Homo sapiens: one gene and its partners. The protein of the gene in region 1 purifies or fractionates together with the protein of each later gene. This does not show direct contact. Each region holds a gene or a part of one and is shown on either strand. Other genes may lie near its edges.

Region 1 (4,840 bases):
GGGCAGCCAAGGTCCCAGGGCAAGCGCAGTGGCTACAAACCCTGAATGCGCAAAAAAAAAAAAAAAAAAAAAAAAGTGGACCTACAGGCCAGGGCAGGGACCCAGGAATGACCCCTGTGCAGAGGAGGAGCCTCTTTTTTTTTTTTCTTTTCTTTTCTTTTTTTTTTTTTTGAGGTAGGGTCTGGTTCTATCACCCAGGCTGGAGTGCAAGTGGTACCATCATGGCTCACTGCAGCCTTGACCTCTCAGGCTTGAGTGATCCTCCCGCCTCAGCCTCCCAAGCACCTGGGTCTACAGGTGTCCAACACCATGTACAGCTAATTTTTAAAATTTTTGTAGAGATGGAGTCTCACTTTGTTGTCCAGGCTGTTCTCACACTCCTGGGCTTAAGTAATTCTTCTGCCTTGGCCTCCCAAAGTGTTGGGATTACAGGCGAAAGCCACTGCACCAGGCCATGAGGAGTCTTCCATTCACTTTTTACTTCTATTCAACGTCCTGAGTAAAGCAGGGATCACGGGGGGCCTCCTTCCCATCTGCTTTGATAGAGGAAGCAAGACTTCTGGGCCGGCACTAGGAGCTGGCACGAGCATGTCTCAGCCCCCACTTACTCCTGTGTGTGTATCCCATAAAAGGCTGGCCGGCCGCCTTTGTCTACGTCGCTCATAGGAAGGTGAGTCCCCTTTGACACGCAGCTGTTGTTAAATGAGACCTCTGATTTCAGAAGAGTCTGGAAGCTTCCCTCTGCCATATACCAAGATACCTGCAGGCCCAGCCCAGGGCCCTGGGACAGCTATGACCTTGGGCGGCAGCAGGCATGTGGCAGCTCTGGCCCAGAGGCTCCTGCCTTCAGAATCCCCTGGCCTCCATGCCAGCCTGGTTTTGGATACCAGACCCCAATAATTGCCTGGTTCTGCTTGCTTGGCTTCTGCCCCAGCTGCCAAGCCTCAACTGCACTTGGCTCAGAGACGGGCCTTTCCCAGAGCCTGTGTCCCCCATCAGGTCACCTGCCTGGCTCACAGTCCTTGAGACCAGCTGGGACCCTGCTTGGGCTGGGAGCATTCCCTGAGGCCAGCCACCTGGCTGTCTGGCTGCCTGCCGGTCAGCCTCACTTTGGGGTCCCGCTCATCCAACAGACACAGTGCCACCTGCCCACACCTGGTGATGGCCTGCCTGCAGGCAGCCTAGCGCCTCTCACCCTATTTGTGCCTTCGTGTTCTCTCCAGGGCCCTCTTCCCCTCCACTAGTTACTTGGACAAACTTGCCCACCCTAGAACCCCAGGCCCTCGCTGCTACTGGAGACCCTTGGAAGGCTGCCCTTGGCCCACTGCCAGGCTTGGTGTCTCAATGCGATGGACCTCACCAGGTTGGTAGGGACATCGCCAGGACGGAGGCAGCACCTGAAGGCTTGCATCCCCATCTCAGGAGGCCACAGTTATATGGAGGCAGGGCATCCCTCCACCTCCGCCGGGAACCAGGAGGGAGCCATGGGTACCAGCTGTGCGAGCCTGGGCAGGTGAAGCAGCAATCACAACAGCCCCACCTCCGCCAGGCTGCTGCTGACCTCAAAAAGCCAATGTACGTTACGTGCTCGACACAAAGCCCAGCACGCGGTAATAAACGCCAGCTACAGTAAACGCGTTTCTTGGACTAAGTTAAGGGATAATTAGGTAAACATTCAGCAGGCGGTGAGGACCCATTGATAGTTCTGGAGAATAGATCAATATGAGATTCAGGTGAGATGAGGAAGGTTTGGGAAAGGGACGATTTAAGAAGGCACGGGCCAAGTGCACAGGGAAGCTTAGTGCATGACAAAGGTGGCATCTCAGGTCACGGGGAGCAGAGATGGACGTTTGCATAAATGGGACAAGTGGGTAGCGCATCCAGAAAAAGATAACATTTGATTCATAGTTCACACCATACACAAGAATAAACTGGAATAAACTCCGATGGGCCAAGGATTTCGATGGAACCAGTGGGACCACACAGGCTAGAGGAAAACGTGGCAAATCCCTCTTTTCCCTTCATGTGGGGAGGGGCTTTCCACTAGGACTCCAATCCAGAGGCGATCAAAGATGGATGGTTTTGACCACATTAAAAAAATTGTGTGGCAACAAAAACACCAAAAGAAAAAAAAAACAAAGTTGAAAGACAACCAACAAACTAGGAGAAAATCTCTAATGTACACGAGAGACAAAGGCCTAACCCATCTAACATACAAAGAACTCTTTAAAAACGACCTGATAGAAAATAGGAAAAGACACAATTTGCCAAAAAGATAAAAGAACGGCCTGTAAACATACGAAAGATGTTCGGATTCACTCCTAAGTACAGAAATGCAAACTCACATGCTGCTGAGACATCACTTCTCACTTATCAGACAGTAACAACTCTAATGGACGACAACACAGTCTGTTGGTGGGTCTGGGGAAACGGGCACCCCATACGCTGCTGGTGGGAATGCAAACTGGCATCAGCCTTCTGGAGGGACGTTGCAAAACCTAACACATTCCTCCTGCTCTCACCTTTGGTCCTGCGACCCCACTTCTGGGTATCTATTCTGAAGAGTCAGCTCCAGTGCTGGGAAAACACGGATGCGTGAGGCCATCCACGTCGATGCTGAAATGGGAAAATACTGGCCACAACCTAAGTGCCTCTGCTCGCTTGGCTTCTGCCCTGGCTGAAAGGAAAATGGCTGAAAGACTCTGCACGGCGGAGTACTATACAGCTGTAAAAATGAAGGAGGAGGCTCCCTCTGCACTGACAAGGAGAGAGTTCCAGGTTATGTTGTTAAGTGAAGAAAAACCAAAGTACAAAGGAGTGTCACTAGTATACAACCCTTTATATAAGAAAGAAGGGGATGTAAGAAAATGCAGGCATCTGCTCATTTATGCAAAAGATATACAGGAAAGAAAGACCAGAAACTGATGAGGTAAGTTGCCCACAGGAATTGGGTGGGAACAGGGTGAAAGGAATGAGAGAAATGGGCAGGGGCAGGAGGAGGAGGGACAATGCCAGTTGTCTGAACACACCTTTGCGCAGAGACCTCTGCCCCTGGAACCAGTGTGATGATTATAGCTTTATGAGCCAACTTGGCCAGGCTACAGTGCCCAGTTACTCAGTCAAACACTAGTCTAGGGGTCACTGTGGGGGTATTTGGGAGATGTGGTTAACATCTATCATCAGTTGTCTTTAAGTAAAGGGGATAATCCTTGATGCTGGGGGTGGGGCCTCACCCAGCCAATGGTAAGGCCTTACCAGCACGTTCGGAAATTCTGCCTCAAGAATGCTGCGTCGGCTCCCAAGAGTTTCCAGCCTGCTGGCCTGCTGGGCCCTGGGATTGGGCAAGCCAATTTTTTGAAACAATATTGTTTTACCCAGCCTTTCTCGATACCATGGCTTAAATAGGGATTCACCCATGTTTTCTTCTAGCACCTGTATGGTTCCGTGGGTTCCATCTAAATCCCTGGGATGTGTGTACACCCACACATACGCACATATATCTTGGTTTCTAGATACCATTCTCTAACAAAAGGAACCAGTGTTCCTTGGAGAAATGGCTGACTTCAGGGCTGGGGCACAAAATGTCTAAGATAAGCCTGGAACATCTCGTGGTACCAGAAAGAAAGAAAGTGCTCAAAAACAGCCAGGGGCAATGTCGAAAGGACACAGAAGCCAGTGTGAAGGCTCTCCAGTAGCCAAAGCTGGGACCAACCTAAGGGACCTTGTGATAGCACCGGGCCCCGGGATGATCCCGCATCTCCCATCTCAAAGCCACCTGATTAGTGTCACCAATTCTGTCTGTGACTTTATCCCCTTTGCCGTGTGACACATCGACAGTTCCAGGAATTACGCATGGACATCTCTGGGGGGCATCATTCTGCCAAACGCAGACCCCAGGGGCTGGCAGGCCTGGGCTGACGTGCTGAGATGCTGTTGTGATGTGGACTTTTCCTTCTTGGTTCCTAAATTATCTTGATTTTTTTTTTTTTTTTTTTTTTGAGACAAAGTCTCACTCTGTCCCTCAGGCTGGAGTGCAGTGGCGCCATCTCGGCTCACGGCAACCTCCGCCTCCTGGGTTCAAGCAATTCTCCTGCCTCAGCCTCCCGAGTAGCTGGGATTACAGGCGTGTGCTACCACGCCCGGCTAATTTTTATATTTTTAGTAGAGATGGGGTTTCACCATGTTGGCTAGGCTGGTCTGGAACTCCTGACCTCAGTTGATCCACCCGCCTTGACCTCCCAAAGCGTTGGGATCACAGGTGTGAGCCACAGTGCCCGGTCAGATTTTTTTTTTTTTTAATACTTTAAGTTCTAGGGCACATGTGCACAACGTGCAGGTTTGTTACGTATGTATACATGTGCCATATTGGTGTGCTGAACCCATTAAATGACGAGTTAATGGGTGCAGCACACCAATATGGCACATGTATACATACGTAACAAACCTGCACGTTGTGCACATGTGCCCTAGAACTTAAAGTATCATAATAATAATAATAATAAAAAAACGAAAATTCCCAGCAACTCCCCCTCCTTCTAGTTCCAGCTATGGCCACTCGGCTCCGAGGATGGCGAACTCTCTCTGGCCTCAGCGCTAGTTATTCCTCTTTGTGCTCTGGCACTGCAGGAAGCCATCTGTGGTGGCTTCCATTTCTAAGGACACTCCACCATGGCTGCTTGTAGAACACTGTGTGCATTACCCTGCTGTCTTCTGCCAGGCCTCCCGTTCACAATCAATCTACACAAATTAACCATCACTTCCACAAAGCAGGCGGGGGAGAGTGCTTTTCTCCAGGGGCCCCCCATTGTGTCTTCCCTGGATCATAATAAAATGCAATCTT
Region 2 (4,840 bases), on another chromosome or scaffold:
TTCCTGGCACTCTTCTAGGCAAAGATGGAAAGATGGAAATGAGATGGAAGGGGCCAAACCAAGAGAAATGTTAAACAAAAATTTGCAAGACCCACCCAGAACAGACTGAACACAGGAAGATGAAGAAAAGATGTAATAAGCCCAAAGCACCTTAGACATAGACTGGAAAATGGTGTTACATCAAGAAAAACAATGAAGCTGTTAGAATATAAAGTTAGTTTTAAGGGGGAAAATCAATTGGATATGTTGAGTTCAAGGTGAAATAGAACCATTACGAAAGATATTCTAAATATTATCTGTAAATAAAAGCCTGGAGCACAGCAGTAACTCCATGATATTGATAACAATATTCTGGCCTTTTCCCCCCTTTAAAAGACTAGTAAATAATTACCAAAAAAAAAAAATCACATAAAAGGGACAGAAGGATTTTTTTTTTCATTTAGCAGTAGTGGTGGTACCTTTGGGTAACATTCTACCTCATATGGAAATATTTGCTTATAATAACAGAACATTACTGAAAACAGTATCTGTGCTTCACCTCCTGGCTTCACCACATAGTATAGGTCAAGGTCATAGTCTCAATGGCTGGTTAGCACTACATAGGGCATAACCACTGGAAAAATGACTCCATAAGACACAATTTGGTGACTGTTGATTAGTAGCACCATCCTCATATACAAAACAAAACATAAATAATATATTCACTTTTATAGTACAAGGCTTTCATCTTACTTAACTCTCAGATATGTAACCTAAACAAACAAAACAAAACAAAACATACAAAACAAAAAAAAAACAAACAAAACACAACATTTTTGCCCAGATAGAAAAAGAAGAAAAGTTCAAATAATAATAAAAATACACCCACAAACATACATACCTAATTTCAAAGGGGATTTTAAATTCTTTGCTATAGGTCCAGTTATCCAAAGAGACCCATCTGTAGTTAAGGTCATTAAATCTGTAGTAAGAATCCTGTTGATACAAGGTAAAAATTATGGTAGATGGTTAAATATGCACAAATAAATTAATAAAACAAACATAAAATAAATTATTAACAACAGCTATTTATCACCTAAAAATTAACGAACTTTTAGCCTAGTAGTACAAAGAGGGGACAGATCGTTAATACTGAAAAATGTGAAGGGAAAATTCCAACAAATTACCTGAAATGAAATAATCCTCTGAGATATAAATAATACAGCTTCATTATCAAAGAAAATTGGTGGGCATTAAGATTGGCTTCCCCTTGGAGACAGGGTTTCACCATGTTGGCCAAGCTGGTCTCAAACTCCTGACCTCAAGTGATCCACCTACCTCAGCCTCCCAAAGTGCTAGGATTACAGGCATGAGCCATCATGTCCGGCCTACAGTTTATCTTGTGTACTAACCTGTTTCACTCTCTAAATGAGCAAAGTGGGAGATCACTGTCACGGCTGAAGTTACATGGCCAAGACAAACTATGGTCTGGGAGTCCCAGGTTCTCCTGTGTGGGCACTTTCCTGGAAGATGCTAAATGATAGGAAAATCTGGGTTTCATGTTTCTGTGTGGTCCTCACCTCACTTGACTTCTGCTCTTTCTGTTTGCTCTGGGCTTCCGTGCTCTCATTGATATAGTTCTCAGTTTTCCATTGGTCTGTATCCCATTCTGCCTTGGACATCTTTACTTCTTGCTGCTCACTGATGAATCAGGAGGCCTGTCCTGGAGATGAGCTTGGTATAGGCCAATTGCACATGGGTCTCAGAGCACTCCATCTTCAAGGTCCAGATAACATGAGAAATGAGTCTTCTCACATCATTATTGGGGATGAGGGGCCGTAGCTGCTGGTTTAGCTGAATTTCAAACTGATCACCTGGGGACGAGAGCAATGGGTAATTGAAGCTTTTGGGCTCGGGAGACAGGCCAGTGCCCATGTTGTTGTATTCCCATTGTGTTTCACAGTCTTCTCTAAGTTGAACGCAGTCTCAGCAGAATCTCCCTCAGGAGGATGGTTGTAGGTTGTGTTTTCAGAGATGGTGCCTTCTGGCATAGTAGTGTTTTCCATAAAAATGTTTTGTTCAAAGGCATTTCTTGCAGTGGTGCTTTTAAAACATTCTGATGGAGAAATACTTCCGGAAAAGGATTTTCCTGAAGACTCAGGTCTCCTAAAGATGAAAAAGCCCCTTGTGAAGGGGCATTTATGAGGCTTTTCACTGCAGAGAATGGAGGCCTCTTTGCAAGCAAAGTCTACTGAGAGAACTTTTCTGGAATGTACGATTGGTTTTAACTCAACTTTGCATTTTCTAAAACCAAAATGGGTAAGTCTTTCAATCTGTTTCTGACCACAGGTAGGGCTTTTGCAGGGGTGGAGATAGAAGGCACGCCCATGGAGAAGGGTTTCAGCAAAGAGAAGACTGCTGCCTTATGCTCTTGGTTGAACGAAGGCTTGGTATAGATGGCGTTTCCTGCTAACTTCTCATGCCCCTGCTCTATGTGAGGCTGTTCCAGCTCCCTTGGGGCTGGACTCCTGAGCCTTTTTTCTTTGGCAGCATTCTCCACAAATGCCCAGGCACCCTGTTCCTTCCTGTTGCTCTGCTTTCCCACCTCTTTGAAGTGACTTTTCTGGATGCTCCTTGGGCCCATGAGGATTCTGTTCACTCTCTGCAGGCTTTTGCCTACACTTTGAATCTTAGCCAGGCTGTTTTCCTGTGGTTGGACAGTTTCTAATTTCATGAGTTTTTGGATGCAGATTGAAGAGAGGGACTCTTTGTATGGTTTTTCGGAATACCCATCTTTCACATTTGAAAAAAACAGGTAACTATAAGGTTAGCTGTTGGCAGAGCTAGCAGAGGTTTTATTTTGGACCAAAAAAAAAAAGCAATTGAATTGTTTTGTAGCTGAAGGCATAGGCATGGGGGGTCCCCAGGTAGTAAACTACCCTGTGGGTGGGTTGAGGGCTAGGGCTGGGCCTCAGGTGGGTCTCACGTTCCCTGTGCTCCCTTCTGCTCTCTGGGAGAGTCGCAGGAGGGGCAGGCTGGGAGGGGCTGCCGCAGCTGTTCACTTGGGCAGGACGTCAGAGGACTAGGACACCAGCCTCCCATCATGGGTCTCGATCTTCTTCACAACCACTGCCCTGGTGGTGCTGGTGCGGCTGAAGGAGCTGGAGCCCACACCAGAGCCAAAGCTGGGGCTTGGGAGGCCCCCACAGGCCGAGCTCAGATCACCTGCATAACCACTGGTGGTCTTTGTATGGATACTCATGTTCTGCATCCCAGAGTCCAGCTGGCTCTCCTCGCCCTCCAGCAGCTTCCTGTAGGTGGCTATCTCGATGTCCAGGGCCAGCTTGATGTTCATCAGTTCCTGGTACTCAAGCAGTTGCCATGCCATGTCCTGCTTGGCCTGCTGCAGGGCGGCCTCCAGCTTGGACAGCTTGGCGTTGGCATCCTTAACAGCCAGCCCCCTGTGCTGCAGACATCTGTGATGGTGCCCTCCAGGGAAGCCCTCTGGCCTTTGAGGCCCTCAGTCTCAGCCTGGAGCTGGCTGATGTTCCGGTTCATCTCAGAAATCTCAGTCTTTGTACACTGCAGGTCATCCTCGTGCTTCCCAGCCAGCATCTGCAGCTCCTCATCCTTGATCTGGTACATGCTCTCAGCCTTGGCCTGGCTGCAGTTGGCGATCTCCTCGTATGGTGCCTTGACCTCAGCGATGATGCTGTTCATGCCCAGGGAGCGGCTGTTGTCCATGGGCAGCACCACAGATGTGTCCGAGATCTGGGACTGCAGCTCCTGGATCTCCTCTTCATACAGCTGCTTGAGGAAATTGATCTCGTCAGTCAGCCCTTCCAGGTGAGACTCCAGCTCTACCTTGTTCATGTAACCTTCATCCACATCCTCTTGATGAGGACAAATTCATTCTCCACCTCTGTACACTTATTGATCTCATCCTCATACTTGTTCTTGAAGTCCTCCACCAGCCCGGGCATGTTGCCAAGCTCCGCCTCCAGCTTCAGCTTCTCCTGGCCCAGAGTCTTCAGCTGCTGCCTAAGGTTGTTGATGTAGCTCTGGAACATGTTGTCCATGTTGCTCTGAGCCATCTTCTGCTGCTGCAGGAGGCTCCACTTAGTCTCCAGCATCTTGTTCTACTGCTCCAGGAACCATACCTTGTCTATGAAGGAGGCAAACTTGTTGTTGAGGGTCTTGATCTGCTGCTTCTCCTGGGTGCGCACAGCCTGGATGTTGGGGTCCACCTCCAGGTTAAGGGGGCTCAGCAGGCTCTGGTTGACTGTGATGGTGGTGATGCCACCCACGCTGCTGCCCTCACCATAGCCTCCGCCCAGACAACCTTGGAAGCTGCTGCTGCCCACTAGGGAGAAGCCTGAGGAGCTTATCTGGACACTGGGCCCACTTGTGTAGGAGTGGCTGCTGAAGGCCCGGGGCCCAGAGGTGGACACCTTGTAGGACTTCTGGGTCACCCTGATGGACATGGTGGAGGCAGGAGTGGGGGCAGGAAGGCCGAACCAGATAGAGATCCCAGAAGGAGTGGAGAAGCTGCTTCTTGGTCTTTTCAGTTAACTTTACCACATATCGTCTCATGACCGGAGGAATTTACAAGAGGGTATAACTTAGATTTATCCACATTTCTCATGACCTTCCCTGTGCCACCTGGAGGGCTGTAAGCAGGGTTTGCTTAGTGTAGCAAGTCGGCAACCTTGCTGTGGCACCTAGATAAGGGTTCAGGAATGCAGCTGCAGAGTATTCGGGGTAAGGGTCAGCTGCACTGCGGGGGCGGTTCCTGGGGCAGCTCGTCCCTAACAGTAACAACATTGATTCTACATCTTATAGATTTTTCTATGAGAAATAA
Region 3 (4,840 bases), on another chromosome or scaffold:
TAGGCCAACTTGCCCGTTGTCCAAGCGTCCCTTGCACCAGCCCTGCTCATCCTCGTCCTCCATCTTGGTCAGCTCATCCCCTGCAAGACAAAGAGGGAGCCGTCTCCATGAGAGGTATGACACCGACGGTGGGCTACAGAGCCGCATTCACGAGCTTTGAGCCCACAGAGGGTGGAGGGCCAGGCATTCTGTGGCGGGCAGGCCGAGGGCCTGGTCATTTCTCTACTAAATGCATGCATTTTAAGTTGCCTCTTTGGTCATGGGCCTCTGACAGACCTAGAGATGACAGTCTCACACAGTAATTTGGAACAAGCTGCTCTCAGCTGCCACAGTGGCTCCCACTGAGACTGCGGCATCCAGCTCCATAGGGCTGTGCCTTCCTCACCACCCTGGCCAGGTGGCAGGAATCGTCCCTCGGTTGTGCCCCTCCCTCACGTTGGGCCTCTTCTGTCCCCTCCCCAGGGCCCCGGCCGCCTTGCTCCCAGCAGCTGTCTCTGGGGTCTCTCTGCCTTTGCTAATCCCTCTCCTCTGCAACTTCCAGGCTGCGAGGGGAAGGGACCATGTCTGACAGTCATACCTGTCATTTTATCCCCAGCACCTGGCTGATGACTTGTGCACGGTGCCATGTGTCAACCCTTCCTGAGACCCTGAGAAGGAGCCCCTGGCGCTGTTCTGGAATCTCCCTGTGGCTCTAATGTATTAACGTGGTTCCATTTATCTTTGGTTGTTCCAACCTGAAGGACCTCCTACTTCTGGCCAGGCCTTGGGTAGAAGAGGAGATACAGAGATGAGAGGAACTGATGGATCCTGGTCTCAAGGAGGCAGACTAGGGTGGTGAGGGGGAGGTGGCACTAGGGTAGGGCCCCAGGTCTGGCATTTGCCAGGTTAGGGAAGCAGAGCAGCTCAGAGCCCAGGGGTGGGCAGGGGCCTGTGTGCTTCTGGTTGGTAACTCACTGCAGGGAAGGCCAGTTGGGCCTGCTGGCTCGGACCTCGTCAGGAGCAAGCAATTGGTGGGAAAGAAATAGTCCCAGTGCTGTTTTGCCTTTATTGCTAAGTTTGAAGTTTTGTAACTCTCTTTGGCATTTTTTGGTCCATTTTTCAGAATTAGATGCAGTTTTCCCCCTGGTTTAGCATTTCCCTGATGCTTTGGATTTTGTATGGCAGCAATGCTGGTCAACATGCCTGCGGAGCTAATACCTGGGGCTTCCAGTGCTCCCCGGACTGCCTGGGCTCAAATCCCACAGCCATCACTCACTGGCTGGGAGACCTGGACCAACTGCGTCCACTCCCTGGGCCTGTGGCCCTCATCTGTGGACTGGGGGTACTGTGAAGATTAAGTGTTAAGACACTAAAGAACCCTGGGAGGGTGGGACATGCGTAAGCACTGGCTCAGCCTCCCACTGTCGTGCCGCTTCTGCCAGACCAGTGCGCCTGCAGATCTAACCCAGAGGCATCAGGAGCAGATGCAGGGGCCACAGGGCAGCAGCCACGATGAACCACCATCTCTTTCCACCGCTTCGTGCCTCGGGCCCCTGGCGTTTCTTTTGTCCTGCCTTCATTGGTTGCTGTGCTCTCACAGGCCTGGATCCAGGCTACCGAGGCTAGGATGAGGCCTGTAACCCCACACTACCATGTGGCAAACAGCCAGAACACCGCAAGAGACGTAAGTCAAGCCACACTGGCTGGGAGCTAATTTTGCATTGTTAAAAAGCAGGATAACACAGAAAATAGAACGGACAGGAAAGCTTTCACATTGTGCAAATGTGAACTGGTGATTAGAAGGTTCATTTCAATCAGTTTGCTTTTGACAATTTACTTGGATCTGGAAGAAACATTTTAAATCTACAAAATTACTGTCAAACCCAATAGGCAGGATTGAAAAGGAGTTAGAAATTATAAACAAATAAACCAACAAAGTCGGGGGTAACAACCCCAACCAAAGATATCAGAAACTGGATGAAGATGGCTTAAAGGCACATTAAAAAAAAATCCAAAAAAACAAAAAAACCCAACTTCTCAAACTGGGCAGAGGCAGCTGATAACCAGCCCAGGGGAAGAGTGTCTGGGGACAGCAGGCTGGCACTCTGGGTGCTGAGGGGAGGAGGCTGAAGACTGGTTAGAAGCTAGGCCATTGGGCACAGCCCCCAGGCCCTGGCTTCCCTGCTGAGTCAGGGGTTGGGGTGGTGGTGGTAAGGCAGCCTTTCCCACAAGTGTAGCCTAGGGGCAAGGGCACACTTCAGCCTGTGTGGGTTGAGTTCTGGCCCAGCTTCCCTCTTGGAGTGGTAGATGCTGCTTCTGGGGGAGCTTCACAAAGAGGGCAAGAGAGGGAAGAATCTGGGTTGCTGTGGGTCCACTTTGGCCCTAGGCCACTCCAGCTTCCTTAGGTGCTAAGATAGCAATTTTCTTTCCTTTTTTTTTTTTTGAGACAGAGTGTCACTCCATCACCCAGGCTGGAGTGCAGTGGTATGATCTCAGCTCACTGCAACCTCCACCTCCCAGGTTCAAGTGATTCTCTTGGCCTCCCCAGTAGCTGGGATTACAGGTGTGTGCCACCATGCCTGAATAATTTTTTTATTTTTTAATAGAGGCAGGGTTTCACCATGTTGGCCAGGCTGGTCTCAAACTCCTGACCTCAAGTGATCCTTCGGCCTTGGCCTCGCAAAGTGCTGGGATTACAGGTGTGAGCCATCGTGCCCGGACAAGATAACACTTTTCAAATTGAAGATGTGAAAAGCCATTTTGGTAAACTGCAAATGCATTAAAAAAGATTCCTATAGTGGGTGGGGTGGTAGCACACATCTGTGGTCCCAGCTACGTAGGAGGCTGAGGTGGGAGGACTGCTTGAGCCCAGGAGATCAAGGCTGCAGCTGCTGTGAGCTATGATCGCACCACTGTAACCCAGCTTGGCTAACAGAGTGAGACCGTGTCTCTATTAAAAAAAAAAAAAAAAAAGATTATCATTGAAGACCATTCAAAGAAGAAAAAGACATTGCACAGAAAGTCTTCACAGGCAGAGCACATGTAATCAGGATCCAGGCTGTTTTATAAAACTATGGTTTCTGCTCCTAGCAACACAGATATGTGTGTGGGTTGGTGTGTGCATGGTAGGTGTGGGCAGGTAGGTGTGCACACACACAAGTTGCTGCCTGAGACAAGGCCCCACCTGGCCCAGGGGCATGCCAAGTGCTACTCTGGGGTCTGGGCAAAGCTGTGGCTCTCCTGAGGGCTTCTCTGGCAGTTGGGGACCCCTAGAGAAAGGCTTCTCTCATGGCCCTGCGGGGCTAGCAGCTCCCAGACTACATATGGGGGAACCTGGTGGTCCTGGCCAACAGCTTCTCCAGATGCCCTTCTGTGTGACTAGCCAGTGCCCTGCAATTCACAGCCTTGGCCCAGCAAGGTGAGGAGTCCAGGCACTGGCTTGGCAGCACCTCACTATTTCTGAGTCTTGGCATTGGGCATCCGCTTTTTTTTTTTTTTTTGAAAAAGAGTTTTGCTCTGTCGCCCAGGCTGGAGTGCAGTGGCGCAATCTCGGCTCACTGCAAGCTCCGCCTCCCGGGTTCAAGCAATTTTCCTGCGTCAGCCTCCCGAGTAGCTGGGACTACAGGCGGCTGCCACCACGCCCGGCTAATTTTTTGTATTTTTAGTAGAGACGGGGTTTCACACTCTTAGCCAGGATGGTCTCAATCTCCTGACCTCGTGATCTGTGTGCCTCGGCCTCCCAAAGTGCTGGGATTACAGGCGTGAGCCACCATGCCCAGCCTACTTTTTTTTTTTTTTAAGAGATGGGGTCTTGCTCTCTCTTCTAGGCTAGAGTACGTGGTATGAACATGGCTCACTGTATCCTCTTGGGTTTAAGTGATCCTCTGCCTCAGCCTCCCAAGCAGCTGGGACTATAGGTATGCAACACCACGCCCAGCTAATCTGCTACTTTTGTTTGTTTATTTATTTGAGACAGGATCTCGCTCTGTTGCCCAGGTTATTTATTTGTTTGTTTGTTTGCGACAGGGTCTCGCTCTGTTGTCCAGGTTGGAGTATAGTGGTACAATCATGATTCATTGCAACCTCAATCTACTGGGCTCAGGTGATCCTCCCACCTCAGCCTCCCAGAGAGCTGGGACTACAGGCATGTGCCACTAAAATTAGCCCAGCTAATTTTTTTTTTTTGACACAAAGTCTTGCTCTGTCACCCAGCCTGGGGTACAGTGGTGTGACCTTGGCTCACTGCAACCTCCACCTCCCAGGTTCAAGTGATTCTCCTGCCGCAGCCTCCTGAGTAACTGTGATTATAGATGCCCCGCCACACGCCTGGCTCATTTTTGTATTTTTAGTAGAGACAGGGTTTCACCATGTTGGTTAGGCTGGGCTCGAACTCCTGACCTCAAGTGATCTGCCTGCCTTGGCCTCCCAAAGGTGCTGGGATTACAGGCGTGAGCCACCATGCCTGGCCTAATTTTTTGTATTTTTTGTAGAGACAGGTTTTGCCATTTTGCCCAGGTTGGTCTCATACTCCTGGGCTCAAGCGATCCTTCCACCTCGGCCTCCCAAAGCTCTGGGACTATAGGCATGAGCCACCACATCCAGCCAATTGGCTGCTTTTGACAATGAAGCCAGGGCACTGGGGAAGGGCCTGCAGTGACTCACAAGTGAAACTAGCAAGAACTTTTCCAGACTTAAAAAACAAAAAAGACCGCCCACAGCCTGCAGGTTGGAAGCCCTCCTCCCCTGGATGCTGGGGGAGCCCACCTACCAGCCTTGAAGCTCAGCTCATCATGCTCCTGCCCCTCATAGTCATACAGGGCCCGGACTCGCACTTCCGTCCCCGAGGTGGCGTCGTCGTCGA
Region 4 (4,840 bases), on another chromosome or scaffold:
CATCTGCCAAGGAAAGAAGTGAGTAAATATTAATTTAACTACTATGAAAAAGAACTTCATAGGGATAACTAGGAGGCATCCATAAAATAAAAATGTGTTGGTCAAAAATCTTAATTCTGACTAAAACAAACTTCTTAAATTCTGCTGTATAATACGCAGCAATGGGTAAGGCTTAACACTGTTATTAAAGTGATCCACATAAAGGTTGCTGCATATTTAGCATCTATCACAGTTATCAAATAATCAACTCTTTCTTTTTTAAGGTTTCAGAATCTGAAAAAATCCCAAATATTTTTATATTATTTTAAGTTATAAAAATTGAGTCCATTAAAAAAAAAAAAAAAAAGGCCAGGCACAGTGGTCCACACCTATAATCCCAGCACTTTGGGGGGCCGACGCAGGCAGATCACCTGAGGTCAGGAGTTCAAGACCACCCTGGCCAACATGGTCAAACCCTGTCTCTACTAAAAATACAAAAATTAGCTGGGTGTGCGTGGTGACATGCGCCTGTAGTCCCAGCAACTTGGGAGGCTGAGGCAAGAGAATCACTTGAACCCAGGAGGCGGAGGTTACAGTAAGCCGAGACTGCGCCACTGCACTCCAGCCTGGGCAATAGAGCAAGGCTCTGTCTCAAAAAAAATGCAAGAGAAATGCCATTGAGAACCAAAGAACAAAGTAAGCTCATATACTACACAGTTGGCCCTCGGTATCTGTGGGGGATTAGTTCCAAGATCCCTCCTCATATGCCAAAATCTATGGATGTTCAAGTCCTTATATAAATTGTATCGTATTTGCATATAACTTATGTGCATCCTTCTGTATAACTTAAATCATCTCTAGATTACTTACACCTAATACAATGTAAATGCTATATAAATAGGTACACCATATTTAGGGGACAATAACAAGAAAAAAAGTGTGTACATGTTCAGTACAGATGTAGCTATCCATTTTTTTCCCTGAATATTTTTGATCTGAGGTTGCTTGAATCCACTAAAGTAGAACCCATGGATACAGAAGGCCAACTGTAATATGAAATCCTGTGTTTTAAAAGTATGTCTTTATATATTCAAGTAAAAAAAAATTAGATTTACCATAATATCCATGTAGCTGAATTCATAATGTATACTTTTTAAAGACAACTTGTTTTTCTCTCTCAGTTACAAAAGTAGACTACAAATATCTAACCCACTAAAACAGCCTTAATCTATATTTTAAGATTAGAATCCAGGTAACCTGGCTTTGTATTCTACTGACTATGCCATTCAATACAATGAAACCTTCTGAAGGTCTAAGTATTAGTCATTTATTCACATCCTACTCTCTAAGAATAACCAAGTGGCAACCCACAACATTTTCAATAACATCATTAAAATAATGTTTACTTTCTGGCAGATATACTACAACTCACTAACATTTTTAATGGTTTTGCTCTTTTATAGTTACCAGACTGGGCTATTTACTTAAATAATGATTATTTACTCACCTTCATCCTCACTATCTTCTGCAGTTACATTGCCTTCACTGGTAATGGCTTCGTCATAACTATCCTCAGTCTGAGAGTCTGTAATTTCACCTTCCTCTGGTTCACTATCAGTCTCCATGATTTTCTCATCTTTAAATGATGTTGAATTAGAGATGTTTTCATGAAGAGGAGACTCTATAGTATTTCCACTAGTTGGAACAGTGACTTTGGGGGGACTATTTTTGTGATGAATGCCTATTTTGGCCTTCTTTTTCATATTTGCGAAATTTTCTTCCTCATTGCAGCTTGTATGTTCAACACTGAAGGCTTTTTGATCCTCTGAGTTCAAATCCTGGAGAAGGGTGGGTAGATACGAGGGAACAGGGGAGAATACTCTTAAACATCACTATCTTATAACATTACATCAAGTTTCAACGAATTCGTGAAGATATGTGTCAGTAAAATAACAATGGTTACAATCTGTTCCCCCTCTCCTTCTCACATTTCCTTTCTTGGTTAATGATATTACCATCTTCTTATTATCCAAATTAAAAATCCTATAGTTATCTCTGAGATCCCCTTAACCATATATAAAATTACGAAGTGCTACAGACTTTTCTCAAAATATATCCAAATCTGTCTCTCTATTCTCAATGTCTTAACATTCCTAGTTCAGGCCCTCATCACATACTGCCTGGACTATGGGATAGCCTAGACCAATGGTGTCCAATAAAAATGTAACACAAACCATATTTGTACTTTTACATTTTCTAGTAGCCACATTTAAAAAGTAAAATTATTAATGAGATAGTTTACATAGTCTGCAACATCCAGAGTGTATTTTACACTTAACAGCACATTTGAGTTTGGATTAGCAAAACTTCAAGTGCTCAACAGCCACATGGAGCTGCTGGCTACCTTACTGGATAGTGCAGGCCTAAAGAATACCTATTCTAAATTTTCTTTTTAAACTGGTAATCAATTAGCTAGTCAACACAAATAAAATACAGAATTAGCTTTACTTATGACATGAATTTAAAGATCCAAATGTACTCAATATGTAGCAAAATTGTAGTTTTGCTAAAATTTAGTACTTCAGATTCAGCTTGATAATACATAAAAGTTTAAAGTACAAATTAACTGTGACTATCTTATTCCAAAATTTTAACTTGCCTGGCATAAGTCTTTTATTATTTATTGTACATTTATAGTTGATATGCCTTATAATAAATGAACATTTTTTAATTAACAAAAATGATGTATTTTTATCATGTACAACATGAAGTTTTGAAATACGTACACAATGTACAGTGGTTAAATTGAGCTAATTAACATGTACATTACCTCAAATACTTATTTTTCTGTGGTAAGAAACTTAAAATTTGCTCTCAGCAGTTTGCAATAATACAACACATTGTTATTAACAATAGTCACCGTGTTATACAATGGTCAAATCTATCATTTCAGCCTTAGAAAAAGTAAATAATTATTTTCCATTTTTTTCCCTTGGTTTCTAACGCACTCTCACTTTTCTTTCTACCTCAGAGCAACATGAGGCGAATTCATATGCTCTTCTGTTATTTTATAAAATATGAGAGCATCTCACACACCTTTCTTTCTTTTTTTTTTTTTTTGAGACGGAGTCTCGCTCTGTCGCCCAGGCTGGAGTGCAGTGGCGCGATCTCGGCTCGCTCCAACCTCCACCTCCCAGGTTCAAGAGATTCTACTGCCTCAGCCTCCCGAGTAGCTGGGACTACAGGCATGCGCACCACCATACCCAGGTAATTTTTTTATTTTTAGTAGAGATGGGGTTTCACCATGTTGGCCAGACTGGTCTCGATCTCTTGACCTCATGATCCATCCACCTCACATACCTATCTTTGATAACAGCGTAAGTTCAGCTTGGAGACTGGCTAAACATTCACAGTGTGATAAATTATACACACTTCTAGCAATACAAATTCACCCAGAACAAGAACAAGGGCAAGGAGCTGAAAAACCATGAGGAGCTTTTACATTATAAAATTATAGCAAAAAAGTTCCCTATCTGTATATACTCTTAAAAAAGCAGTTTCCAATCTTGTATATTTATTACTTACTGAACAACATATGCAGGGAAAGCTATTTGCCAGTACAGAACATTAGATAGTCATTAAGTGAAAAGAAAGGAGGGCTTATTTATGGGCACTGAGGCACATATGTATATTTCAAATTATTTACTCCTATCTCCCCTACTGTCTTCCTTCCACATAACCTTCACCTACAAAAAGTGAGGCTCAAAAATATCTTTAAAAATAAAGAAAACAGATGAAGATACTCTCTTGGCCTCACAGGTACCTTTTAGAATCCTCAGGAAATTCTCAAAATTCCAACAGGATTTTTCTTAAAAGTTCTTGTCGAGTGCTCAATGGTGCCCAGGCTGGAGTGCAGTGGCGTGATCTCGGCTCACTACAACCTACACCTCCCAGCCGCCTGCCCTGGCCTCCCAAAGTGCCGAGATTGCAGCCTCTGCCCGGCCGCCACCCTGTCTGGGAAGTGAGGAGTGTCTCTGCCTGGCCGCCCATCGTCTGGGATGTGAGGAGCCCCTCTGCCTGGCTGCCCAGTCTGGAAAGTGAGGAGCGTCTCCGCCCGGCCGCCATCCCATCTAGGAAGTGAGGAGCGTCTCTTCCCAGCCGCCATCACATCTAGGAAGTGAGGAGCGTCTCTGCCCGGCCGCCCATTGTCTGAGATGTGGGGAGCGCCTCTGCCCCGCCGCCCCATCTGGGATGTGAGGAGCGCCTCTGCCCGGCCGAGACCCCGTCTGGGAGGTGACGAGCGTCTCTGCCCGGCCGCCCCGTCTGAGAAGTGAGGAGACCCTCTGCCTGGCAACCACCCCGTCTGAGAAGTGAGGAGCCCCTCCGCCCGGCAGCTGCCCACTCTGAGAAGTGAGGAGCCTCTCCGCCCGGCAGCCACCCCATCTGGGAAGTGAGGAGCGTCTCCGCCCGGCAGCCACCCCGTCCGGGAGGGAGGTGGGGGGGATCAGCCCCCCGCCCGGCCAGCCGCCCCATCCGGGAGGGAGGTGGGGGGTCAGCCCCCCCGCCCGGCCAGCCGTGCCATCCGGGGGGGGGGGGGTCAGCCCCCCGCCTGGCCAGCCGTGCCGTCCGGGAGGGAGGTGGGGGGGTCAGCCCCCCGCCCGGCCAGCCGCCCCGTCCGGGAGGGAGGTGGGGGGGTCAGCCCTCCGCCCGGCCAACCGCCCCGTCTGGGAGGTGAGGGGCGCCTCTGCCCGGCCGCCCCTACTGGGAAGTGAGGAGCCCCTCTGCCCGGCCAGCCGCCCCGTCCGGGAGGGAGGTGGGGGGGTCAGACCCCCGCCCGGCCAGCCGCCCTGTCCGGGAGGGA

Evidence for each region.
Region 2: the proteins of RAMP1 (region 1) and MANBA purify together in Homo sapiens (affinity purification with mass spectrometry; one large-scale study listed by BioGRID and IntAct). This does not show direct contact.
Region 3: the proteins of RAMP1 (region 1) and PACSIN2 purify together in Homo sapiens (affinity purification with mass spectrometry; one large-scale study listed by BioGRID and IntAct). This does not show direct contact.
Region 4: the proteins of RAMP1 (region 1) and AGGF1 purify together in Homo sapiens (affinity purification with mass spectrometry; one large-scale study listed by BioGRID and IntAct). This does not show direct contact.

Annotation. Positions count from the first base shown.
Region 1 is NC_000002.12:237,879,148-237,883,987, reverse strand, and holds part of RAMP1 (receptor activity-modifying protein 1 isoform 1 precursor), read right to left. Parts: intron 1-4,840. UniProt on the Homo sapiens protein: Accessory protein that interacts with and modulates the function of G-protein coupled receptors including calcitonin gene-related peptide type 1 receptor (CALCRL) and calcitonin receptor (CALCR). Required for the transport of CALCRL to the plasma membrane.
Region 2 is NC_000004.12:102,725,709-102,730,548, forward strand, and holds part of MANBA (beta-mannosidase precursor), read right to left. Parts: exon of another isoform or gene 1,662-4,840; coding exon of another isoform or gene 1,560-1,661; intron 976-1,559; coding exon 881-975; intron 1-880.
Region 3 is NC_000022.11:42,871,390-42,876,229, forward strand, and holds part of PACSIN2 (protein kinase C and casein kinase substrate in neurons protein 2), read right to left. Parts: coding exon 4,748-4,840; intron 4,142-4,747; exon of another isoform or gene 1,103-4,141; intron 1,071-1,102; exon of another isoform or gene 596-1,070; intron 115-595; exon of another isoform or gene 81-114; coding exon 1-80.
Region 4 is NC_000005.10:77,043,324-77,048,163, reverse strand, and holds part of AGGF1 (angiogenic factor with G patch and FHA domains 1), read right to left. Parts: intron 1,818-4,840; coding exon 1,487-1,817; intron 4-1,486; coding exon 1-3. UniProt on the Homo sapiens protein: Promotes angiogenesis and the proliferation of endothelial cells. Able to bind to endothelial cells and promote cell proliferation, suggesting that it may act in an autocrine fashion.